Homo sapiens: one gene and its partners. The protein of the gene in region 3 purifies or fractionates together with the protein of the main gene of each other region. This does not show direct contact. Each region holds a gene or a part of one and is shown on either strand. Other genes may lie near its edges.

Region 1 (3,656 bases), on a different chromosome or scaffold from region 3:
AACACTGAACATAAAGCAGGACGACCCCTTTGAACTCTTCATAGCAGCCACAAACATTCGCTACTGCTACTACAACGAGACCCACAAGATCCTGGGCAATACCTTCGGCATGTGTGTGCTGCAGGTGGGTGGCTTCCTCTAACCTGTGATTGAAGTCAGAGTCTTGAGGGTTGCTTGGGCTGCCTGGCTTTCCACTGGGAACAGATGTACAGTAAGGAGAGGAGAGTCCCATGTTCCCTATGCCCAAGCATTATTAGTGGAAGTCCTGGCCACTTTCCAAAGTACACTCGGTCACCTACCCCATATAAAAAGAGAATTTTAAATCAGCACTTGTCTAGAGACACCAGAACTGAAGTGATGAGTTATTATAACGGGTTCTAACTAGCTAAAGCTGATAAAGCAAATGCCAGAGACTTTGAGTGCCTCTAGGACCCTAGGTCCTTATTGGCATTCACCAAAGACTTTTTTTGTCCAGTGAGCAATGGGACTTGTTTTCCAACCGGATATAGACCAATGCACTTAAATGTCCTGTCCAGAGTGCCTGAGTGGCATACCCACCATGAAGGCCCCTCTCCCCTTTTCTAGCCCTTAAAAACCCCTCACTTTACCTCTCAGAGACTACTTGGTGAATTTCTGCACTGGTGTGTATTCTCTTGCCTGGCAAGTTAATAGACTAAGTTTCACTTTGTGTGTGTGTGTGTGCATGTGTGTGTAAGCACTGGTGGTCTTTGTTTTATTCTTTGTTTCTTTGATTCCTGTGCCACCTCCCTTCCCCATTCTCCCAAAAAAGACAAGACAAAATTAAGCACAAATCCTCACATTTTTGTGTGTTTATCATATACACTTACAACTGTGCCCATTATTATGTCAAGTTACATACCTTGCAAAATATGGGTTGTCTCCTATACTGCTGGCTTGCATCTCACCTTGGAGGCCAAGAAAGAGGGCATTATGCCTCATTTTCACCTTTACTCAGGGAAATGCCCTGGGTTATCACTGATTGGTAGGGAGTGGTCTTCTACTTGCTGCCATGATCAATTGCCTGAATAATGACTCCTGTGAGCAGTAGCTCCCCCATGTAGTATAGTTTTGTCAAACAGGTTTGAGCTATAAATGTCAGAAAATGTAAGATGTTTCTGAAATTCAAGTATGAATCAGTGAAGGTTGGAAAATTTGTTTCCAAATAGGATTTTATCAGAGACATTTTTGACATATAAAACTAACAACGTCTCTAATAAGAGACCCGTTTTTGGCATATAAAACCAGGTATTCGTATATTCGAGGGTTTGGCCCTCTTCTGTGGTACCCCTGTGTGTGTATCCTGGGAAGTCAAGGTGGGAACAGGTATGGTCTTGGCTTTGTGCTCTGAAGTCTTCTTTTTGCCTTATCACCTGGCTTTTGGTTAAGAGTCCCTTGGGTTGGGCCAGGCGCGGTGGCTCATGCCTGTAATCCCAGCACTTTGGGAGGCTCAGGTGGGTGGTGAGCCAAGATTGCGCCACTGCACTCCAGCCTGGGCGACAGAGCAAGACTCCATCTCAAAAAAAAAAAAAAAAAAAAAAAAGTCCTTTGGGTTGCTATTTGCATGACCAGCCCTTTCTAACGCCCCCTTCTTCCAGGATTTTGAAGCCTTAACTCCAAACTTGCTGGCCAGGACTGTAGAAACAGTGGAAGGTGGTGGGCTAGTGGTCATCCTCCTACGGACCATGAACTCACTCAAGCAATTGTACACAGTGACTATGGTAAGCATCTGTTTTTTAACTTAATTGTGAGGGTTCAAGTAAATCTGTTTTTGCTGTGTTCTGCTTTCTTTAAAGAATTCCTGTTGGGCAGCTCCAGTGAGTAGTCAGCACAGCCTCTGGGCTAAGAGCTCTTTGATTTTAACTAATGAAAAAGTCACTACAGTTAAATCTCAGGGTCCATGAGTATGCCTAGGAATCTCTGAATTTCACCTTTGTTTTCAGGCACTTGCAAATTCTACACCAGTGAGATTCAGATATGATACAGCTTTTATGTAGTTAAATTTTCTGGAATGATATTGTACAAGGAGCAATGCCAGTGCCTAAATTTGTGTATTGCAAAAAAAGGACCATGTGCAGACTGCTCACTGGCCCTTATCCTAATGGATGACGAAGGAACATTTGCCAGTTGTACTCCAGTTTGGCAAGAATTTCAACTCCAGCAGAGATTGTGTTCTCCCAAAGCAAAAGACACTGACTGAGGACATGGTGAGGAATTAGGGATATGTCTCACCTGATGCAGAGCTGGTCTCCTCACTTTATCAGCGTTGCCAAGTCAGTGTTCAGAGGCAAGTTTTAAGTCATGCCCATGTCCAGCAGCTCAGTAATGGTGGTCGGATTGGACTTAGGGTTTCCTGAGCTGCATTTATCTGATGAAATGGACTTTCCTCAAATCTTAGGGGCTGTTTCCTGTCATTACTTCTCCCTTCATCACTTGCACTACAGCCCTTTTGGCCTCCTCAAATGTCCTCAGACATGCCCAGCACACACTCCTGCGAGGGCCTCGGCACTTGCTGTTCCCACTGGAATGTGCTTCCTCTGGACCTCTGCCTGGCTCGCTTCCTCATTGCATTCAAGCCCCTGCTCAGATATCACCTCATCCATGTGGTCTTTCCTCACACCCTGTTTACAGTAGGCAGCTCCGCCTGTCACTCCTTAACCGGCTTTATTTTTCTTCAAAGCACTTGACAATGACCTAAAGTTATTATTATTATTTGTCTGTCCTCCTGTACTAGTCTCTAAATTTCACTGGAGGGCCGATCACAGTGGCTCACGCCTGTAATCCTAGCACTTTGGGAGCCTGAGGTGGGCGGATCACCTGAGGTCAGGAGTTTGAGACCAGCCTGGCCAACATGGTGAAACCTCGTCTCTACCAAAAATACAAAAAAAATTAACCAGGTGTGGTGGTGCACACCTGTAATTCCAGCTACTAGGGAGGCTGAGGCAGGAGAATTGCTTGAACTCAGGAGGCGGAGGTTGCGGTGAGCTGAGGTCACGCCACTGCACTCCAGCCTGGGCAACAGAGCAAGACTCCGTCTCAAAATAAATAAATAAGTAAATAAATTTGATGGGAACAGAGAGTTAGTTTTCTTTGCTGTTGCATTTCCAGATCTTAGAAGAGTTCCTGGCATTTAGTAAGCATTCCTTAGATAGTTGAGAGTGAATGAATGACTTTGTGCTCACATCAGTTTGTTCTTCCTCTCCCTCTGACATAGCTACCTACTTACCCTTCAGGCCTCAGCTTATCTCAGAGAGGCCCTCCCTCACTACCCTACATAAGTGACCCCCACTTGCTATCCGTGCAGTCTATATTTCATATGTAGCATTTGTCAAAATTTGTATTTATCTACTAATTTTTCTTCCTCCATCCATTATACTCCAAGTGCCATGAGAACAGAGGTCATGCTTTGTTCATTAGTGTATGCACAGCATATCTGGCACACAGCATGCCAATTTTATGAAATAAATGAATATAACTTAGGATGCTAGGAAAAATGTGGAAAAGTGAAAGATTTTAATAAGCAACGTTGCATTCAGTGTCTGATCCCAGTTTCAGCAAATACCATTTGGCACAGCAGTGTGTGTGGGAGTGATTTTGTTTCCAGCAAGATTGCCCATGTCTCCTTGGATAGAGCTTTG
Region 2 (3,656 bases), on a different chromosome or scaffold from region 3:
CCCTTGAGGCTCAGCCTTGAATGATCCAATCACTAAATGAAGGTGCCAAAGGGCAGACTTAGGGCTAATGCAGAAATCAGAGCTCTGAATTTTCTGATCACAAACAATTATGAAAACACTCATGCTCTGGCAACAAATCTCCTCCTCAGAGCAGCTGCAACATAATTTGGTCCTTCAAACTGAATTTTCTACTTGGTTTCTACCAGTTGTAAAGGTCTTAACTGCCCTTTATCCATATGGCAGTTTTTTAACATAAGGGGAGGCATGGTTATCTTGTAAGCAGGTCATTTCCAAAACTACAGAGTAAATAAATGATCAGCATAGCAACAGGACAGATGCTTATAGCAAAAACAAAAATGTACGTCTAATAGTCAAACTCATAGAATCAGAGAGTAGAAAGATGATGACCAGGGCTGGGAGGATGGGAAAGAGCTAATCAAGCGGCATAAAGTTTCAATTATACAAGATGAATCAGTGCCAGAGATCTGCTATACAACATTGTACCTACAGTTTACAATACTTTATTGTACACTTAAAAATGTGGTAAGAGAGTAGATCTTATGTTGTGTTCTTACCATAATAAAATACATTTTTTTAAATGCAAACCATGGCACCAATTCAAGGTTTAACTTTCAAACATGTGATGGCTTAACAAAGAGCATGCCAAGGACAAACGTTTGGAAACAAGCCCCTACCAACACAAATCTTCATCTCTTGAACCTGTTCTAATCCAACCCAAGGAATCCTAAGAATCCTCCCAGTTTACATTGTGAAATCAACCAGTGAGACAATTTTATAAAATATTACAAAACCAGTTTATAATAGAAGAGTAAATGAATGTGCTTAGCAGAACTCTAAATTCACCTTCTCTAAGGTGTGTTTTTCATTAAGGTTCCAAAAGTACCACCTTAACAAAAGTTCCTCTCCTCTAGAAGTTAGAAAGTCACACTTTAAATATAACTTTAGCAAGAAAACTGCCATAATAAACTAACAACAACAAAATACTCTAAATCTGAAAGGTAAACTGGCATTTTAAAATTGGAAGAGAACACTTGAAAACAAGTGTTGACAGTTGCTAAAGTATGTGTTGAACAGAAGAGTCTTGTTTCTCAAAATTAATGCCCACACCTATGGTATATTAATTTAAAATTCATAAGGTACTTAACCATTTTCCATTACTTCTTTCAAATTCCGGTTCCATCTCTCACTATTAGAAAGTCTACTGACCAATAACAAGTGATGCTCTTGGGAATTCATTCATTCATTGTTTGACAAGTATGGAATATCTACCATGTGTCTGGCAAAATCTTAAGGGCTAGGGATAAAATGGTGAATGACAAAACGGAAAAAAAAAAAAAAACATGATCTCTACTTTTTTGGAGACTATCATCTACATGCCAAAATCTGTATCACTAAACTCAGCCACAGTAAATCTCATTAGCAGCCAAGGATCCAGAATCATAATTATGAAGGGTCACATATATCACATAACAGATGCTGGACTCTCTCAACCATTTAATCTTTCTTCACCAGATACTTATTAATGTCTCCTTTGTGGAAGACATCCTGCCAGGTACAATGGAGAGATGAAAAGATGAATTAGACACAAATGCTATCTTCAAGGAAGCTACTGTTTGCTCAAAGTGTCTAAGAGTTTTTTTGAATGGCTAATTTAGTTTTCAAAACCAGTACTAGGAGGGTTAGGAAACAGCCTGGAAATAACAGAAAGCAACAAGAACTCACTGTTACTCGATAGTTTAGCTGGTTAATTTTCAAGTAAGGTACAGTATTAAAAGTGGTTTGGAAACTATGATCAAATACACTAACTCTTCTTCTATTTACAGAAGTCAACTAAACCTCCGAAACAGTGATTAAAGGCTTACCCATATATTGAAGGAGAGATTAAGCAAAAAATAATAATGGATTTCGGGAAGAAGGAAAAAAAACAGAGTAGAATCTGTCAGGTGAGGTTTTCATTTTTCAAGTCCCCTGGTCTTTGGCCTAACACCAAAACTGTCCTATATTTAGTGTCCACTTTAGATAAACTGGTGACATAATCTAGAATGGCCCATAATAAAAGTAGACTCCAAAAGAACCTTCTCAGGACCTCAATAAAATGCCAAATTTGAAATATAAAATAAGGTAAAAATACCCAGTCAGTAAAAACATAAATAACAAACTTTCTTTTGTTGAGTTATTGTTATTATTATTTAGAGACAGGGTCTCACTCTGTTGCCCAGCCTGGAGTGCAGTGGCATAATCACAGCTCACTGTAACCTCCAACTCCTGGTCTCAAGTGAGCCTCCTCCACCTTGGCCTCACAAAGCATTGGGATTACAGGTATAAGCCACTGCATTTGGCCAAGTTATTATTTTTATAACTCAATAAACCTTATCATTTAAAGTTGATAAGACAACTATCACCAAAAGCAGAAGAGTTTTTAAATCATGTTACTTAAAACGGTAGGTTACATATTCTGGATATTTTCCTTCATTGATAAAAATGTACATTACTCAAACAAAATTATTAAATGTTCTTAGGTATATAACCATTTCCATAATAAACTAGTTCTATTTTTAATAGTTTAAAAGATTATCTAACCTAAGCCAGCATAAGAGTCTTTGAAGCTAACTTGGATTTCAACATCCATAGCTTTTTATTCCATGACTAATGAAACAGTTTTAATGTTTCTGAAAAACCCCGTAAGGAATCCCAGGCCTCTCATAAGGATACACCTTTAAACAGATCTTCTAAGGAAGGAATTCCATGACTACTAGGCCATGTTAGATCCTCTTTGCTACCGTGTCCTCCCGTGATAAAACTCACCACTCTGCTGTTGGTACTTACTTACCTTCCATGGACAGCCAGCCAGTTCCATGGGACTGTGTCTGCCATCTTTACCCTGGTGCTGAGTACACTACTCGACACTTAATCAGGTTCCTTATCTGAACCACAGAACACAGAAAATGGTTTGAGTGACTATATTCTCAATTTTCTGAAAGGTGGTACAAAACTAGTACCATTCTGGCTGCATGGGAAATAAGTTAATGGAACCCCATTTGAGAAAATCCACTTGACTAGACACTCAACATAAGTTTACAGAATAAACGTCCTGGGATCAGAATACATATATATATATATACATACAGAATATATATCTACTGGGGTCAGATAGGCAGTAGTGAAGGTGGTGGTGATGATGGTGATAATGATGATGATAACAATGTTTATTTTTACTGTATGCCAGCAATGTTTTATGTGCTATATAATATCTCAATCCCTACCAGAACCATATCACTCCTATTTGATAGATGAGGAAATGGAGGCTCAGAGAAGTTAAATTGCTTGCGCAAGTAAATGAGGGAGCAGAATTCAATCTCAGGAGTCTGCATCTAAAGCTCCACACTACACCACTATATTGTAACTTAAGGGGCAAAACTGGATGACAGCAAAATGGAAAGCACATTTCCCACCTAAAAGGGAAGCCACTATTCAATTCTAGTTAGGAAAATGCATGCCCACTGTTACCAGATACTTAAGTTTTTCAAGAGAGTCAGACACCCAGATCTTTATGTGAAATCCCTCAACTTTTAAATATTAGAAAATAATTCTGAAACAACTTTTAGTTTGTTTGGGCCAAATAAAACTTACCTACA
Region 3 (3,656 bases):
ATCACGAGGTCTGGAGTTTGAGACCATCCTGGGCCAACACGGTGAAACCCCGTCTCTACTAAAAATACAAAAACTGGGCAGGGTGCGGTGGCTCACGCCTGTAATCCCAGCACTTTGGGAGGCCAAGGCAGGCGGATCACAAGGTCAGGAGATCGAGACCATCCTGGCTAACACGGTGAAACCCGTCTCTACTAAAAATACACAAAATTAGCCAGGGGTGGTGGCGGGCGCCTGTAGTCCCAGCTACTCAGGAGGCTGAGGCAGGAGAATGGCGTGAACCTGGGAGGCGGAGCTTGCAGTGAGCCGAGATGGCGCCACTGCACTCCAGCCTGGGCGAGAGTGCGAGACTCCGTTCAAAAAACAAACAAACAAACAATGAGCTGGGCGTGGTGGCACACACCTGTAGTCCCAGCTACTCGGGAGGCTAAAGCAGGAGAATCACTTGAACCCGGGAGGCAGAGGTTGCAGGCAGAAGTTGCAGTGAGCCAGATCGCGCCACTGCACTCCAGCCTGGCGAAAGACTGAGACTCTGTCTCAAAAAAAAAAAAATGACAAAATAAACTGTACACCAAACCCCGACAACACACAATTTACCCATGTAACAAACCTGTACACGCACCTCCAAACCTAAAGTACAATTTGGAAATCAAATAAGTAATTTAACTGTAAAATGTTAACTATAAAACAGCCTCAAGCAGGTCCCTCAGGAGGTATCCAGAAGAAGGCACTGTTACTGGAGATGACAGCTCCATGCATGTACTGCCCCTGAAGACTTTTCAGCAGGACAAGATGTCAAGGTGGAAGAGAGTGATACTGATGAACCTGACTCTATGTAGGCCTAGGCTAACGTGTGTGTTTGTGTCTTAGTTTTTAACAAAAAATTTTAAAAAGTAATAAATAGAAAAAAGTTTATAGAATAAGGACATAGAGTATTTTTGTACAGCTGTACAATGTGTTTGTGTTTTAAGCTAAGTATTATTATAAGAATCAAAATATAAAAAATTAAAGTTTATAAAGTAAAAAAAGTCACAGTAAGCTAAGGTTAATTTATTATTGAAGAAAGAAAAAATGTTTTCTATAAATTCAGTATAGCTTAAGTGTACTGTGTTTGTAAAGTCGACAGTAGTGCACAGTAATGTCCTCGGCCTTCACACTCATTCACCACTCACTCACTGACTCACCCGAGCAACTTCCAAGCCTGCAACTTCCATTCATGGTCAATGCCCTATACAGGTGTACCATTTTTTTATCTTTTATATTGTATTTTTACTGTACCTTTTCTATGTATAGATACATCTAGATACATAAATACTTAGCATTCTATTACAATTGCCTATGGTATTAAATGCAGTCACATGCTGTACAGTTTTGTAGCCTAAGCGCCACAGGCTTTACCATATAGCCTAGGTGTGTAGTAGGCTACAACATCTAGATTTGTGAAAGTACACTCTATGAGGTTTGCACAACAAAATTACCTAACAATGCATTTCTCAGAATGCATCTCCATTGTTAGGCAACAAATGGCTGTATTTGAAAATCGATGCGATATTTCACCATATTAACAAATGAAAAGTGGCTGGGTGCAGTGGCTCACACCTGTAATCCCAACACTTTAAGAGGTGACAGTGGGAGGACTGCTTGTGCTCAGGAGTTCAAGGCCAGCCTCGACCACATAACAAGACCTCATCTCTACTAAAAAACAAACAAACAAAAAAAAATCAGCCAGGTGTAGTATGTGGTCCCAGCTACTTGGGAGGCTAAGGTAGGAGGACTGCTTGAGCCCCAGAGGTCAAGGCTACTGTGAACCACAGTCATGCCACTGCAGTCCAGCCTGGAAAACAGAGCAAGACCCTGTCTCGAAAAAAAAAAATCATATGATCATCACAGTAGATTCAGAAAAAGCACTTAACAAAACCCAATGTTCACTCTCGAAAAAAAAAAAAATCTCAGTAAACTAGAAATAGAAGAAAACTTCTCCAGTGATAAAATGCATATACAAATGGTGAAAGACTAAATGCTTTCTCCCTAAGAGAAGAAACAAGACAAGTAATCTGCTCTCACCATCTCTATTTAACATTGTTACTTGGGGATTGCAGCCAGTGCAATAAGAAAAAGAAATAAAAGCCTGGAAAGGAAGAATTAAAACTGTATTCACAGATGACATAATCTTTACATAGAAAATCCAATGGAATCTATTAAAAAGCTCTAGGACGCCAGGCGCAGTGGTTCACGCCTGTAATCCCAGCACTTTGGGAGGCTGAGGCGGACAGATCATTTGAGATCAGGAGTTTGACGCTGGCCTGGCCAACATGGTGAAACCCCGTCTCGACTGAAAATACAAAAATTAGCCGGGCGTGGTGGCACACACCTGTAATCCCAGCTACTCAGGAGGCTGAGGCAGAAGAATTGCTTGAACCTGGGAGGTAGAGGTTGCAGTGAGCCAAGATTGCGCCACTGCACTCCTACCTGGGCAATAGAACGAGACTCCAACTCAAAAAAAAAAAAAAAAAAAGGTCTAGGACTAATAAGAACTAAGTGAGCTTAGCCAGATTGATGGAGAAGATTAATGTAAAAAAATCAATCATATTTCTATATACTAGTGTCAATCAGAAATATAAATTTTAAAAATATAATTTTAATAGTGTATTAGTCCATTCTCACACTGATAGAAATACCCAAGACTGGGTAATTTATAAAGGAAAGAGGGTTAATTGACTCAGTTCCACACGGCTGGGAAAGACTCAGGAAACTATAATCATGGTGAAAGAGGAAATAGGCATGTCTTACACGGCGGCGGCAGGCAAGTGAGAGAGCATGTGAGAACAAAGGAAAAACTACCATTTATGAAACCATCAGATCTTGTGAGAATTCACTATTACAAGAACAGCATGGGGGAAACCAGCCCCATAATCCAGTTACTTCCCTCCCTCGACACGTAGGGATTACAATTCAACATGAAATTTGGGTGGGGACCTAAAACCAAACCATATCAAATAGCACCAAAAACTATGAAATACTTACGGATAACTAAACATTGACAGTTTTCTTAAAGGTTAAGCATATACCTATTATATGATCCAGCCATTCTACTCCTAGGTATTTAACCAAGAGGAATAAAAACATATGTCCATACAAAGCCTTGTAAACAAAATTTTTATAGAAGCCTTATTTGTTAATAACTAAAATTGGAAACAACCAACATGTCCATTGGTAGGTAAATGTATTAATAAACTGAGGTACATCCATACAATGCAATATTACTCAGCAATAAAGAGGAATCAGCTACTAATACACTTAACAACAGGGATGACTCTCAATTATGCTGAGTGAAAGAAGGATAACTACATATTGTGTGGTTCCATTTATATAAAATAAGAGGAAATTCTAGGAAATGAAAGTTAATGTACAGTGATAAAAACATCAGTTAGGCCAAGCGCAGTGGCTCACGCCTGTAATCCCAGCACTTGGGAGACCGAGGCGGGCGGATCACGAGGTCAGGAGATCAAGACCATCCTAGCTAACACAATGAAACCCCGTCTCTATTAAAAATACAAAAATTAGCTGGGCATGGTGGCAGGTGCCTGTAGTCCCAGCTACTGGGGAGACTGAGGCAGGAGAATGGTATGAACCTGGGAGGCGAAGCTTGCAGTGAGCCA

Evidence for each region.
Region 1: the proteins of DIS3L2 (region 3) and NAT10 purify together in Homo sapiens (co-immunoprecipitation; one large-scale study listed by IntAct). This does not show direct contact.
Region 2: the proteins of DIS3L2 (region 3) and FTO fractionate together in Homo sapiens (co-fractionation; one large-scale study listed by BioGRID). This does not show direct contact.

Annotation. Positions count from the first base shown.
Region 1 is NC_000011.10:34,112,100-34,115,755, forward strand, and holds part of NAT10 (RNA cytidine acetyltransferase), read left to right. Parts: coding exon 1-124; intron 125-1,616; coding exon 1,617-1,739; intron 1,740-3,656. UniProt on the Homo sapiens protein: RNA cytidine acetyltransferase that catalyzes the formation of N(4)-acetylcytidine (ac4C) modification on mRNAs, 18S rRNA and tRNAs.
Region 2 is NC_000016.10:53,710,650-53,714,305, reverse strand, and holds part of FTO (alpha-ketoglutarate-dependent dioxygenase FTO), read right to left. Parts: intron 1-3,656.
Region 3 is NC_000002.12:231,968,166-231,971,821, reverse strand, and holds part of DIS3L2 (DIS3-like exonuclease 2), read right to left. Parts: intron 1-3,656.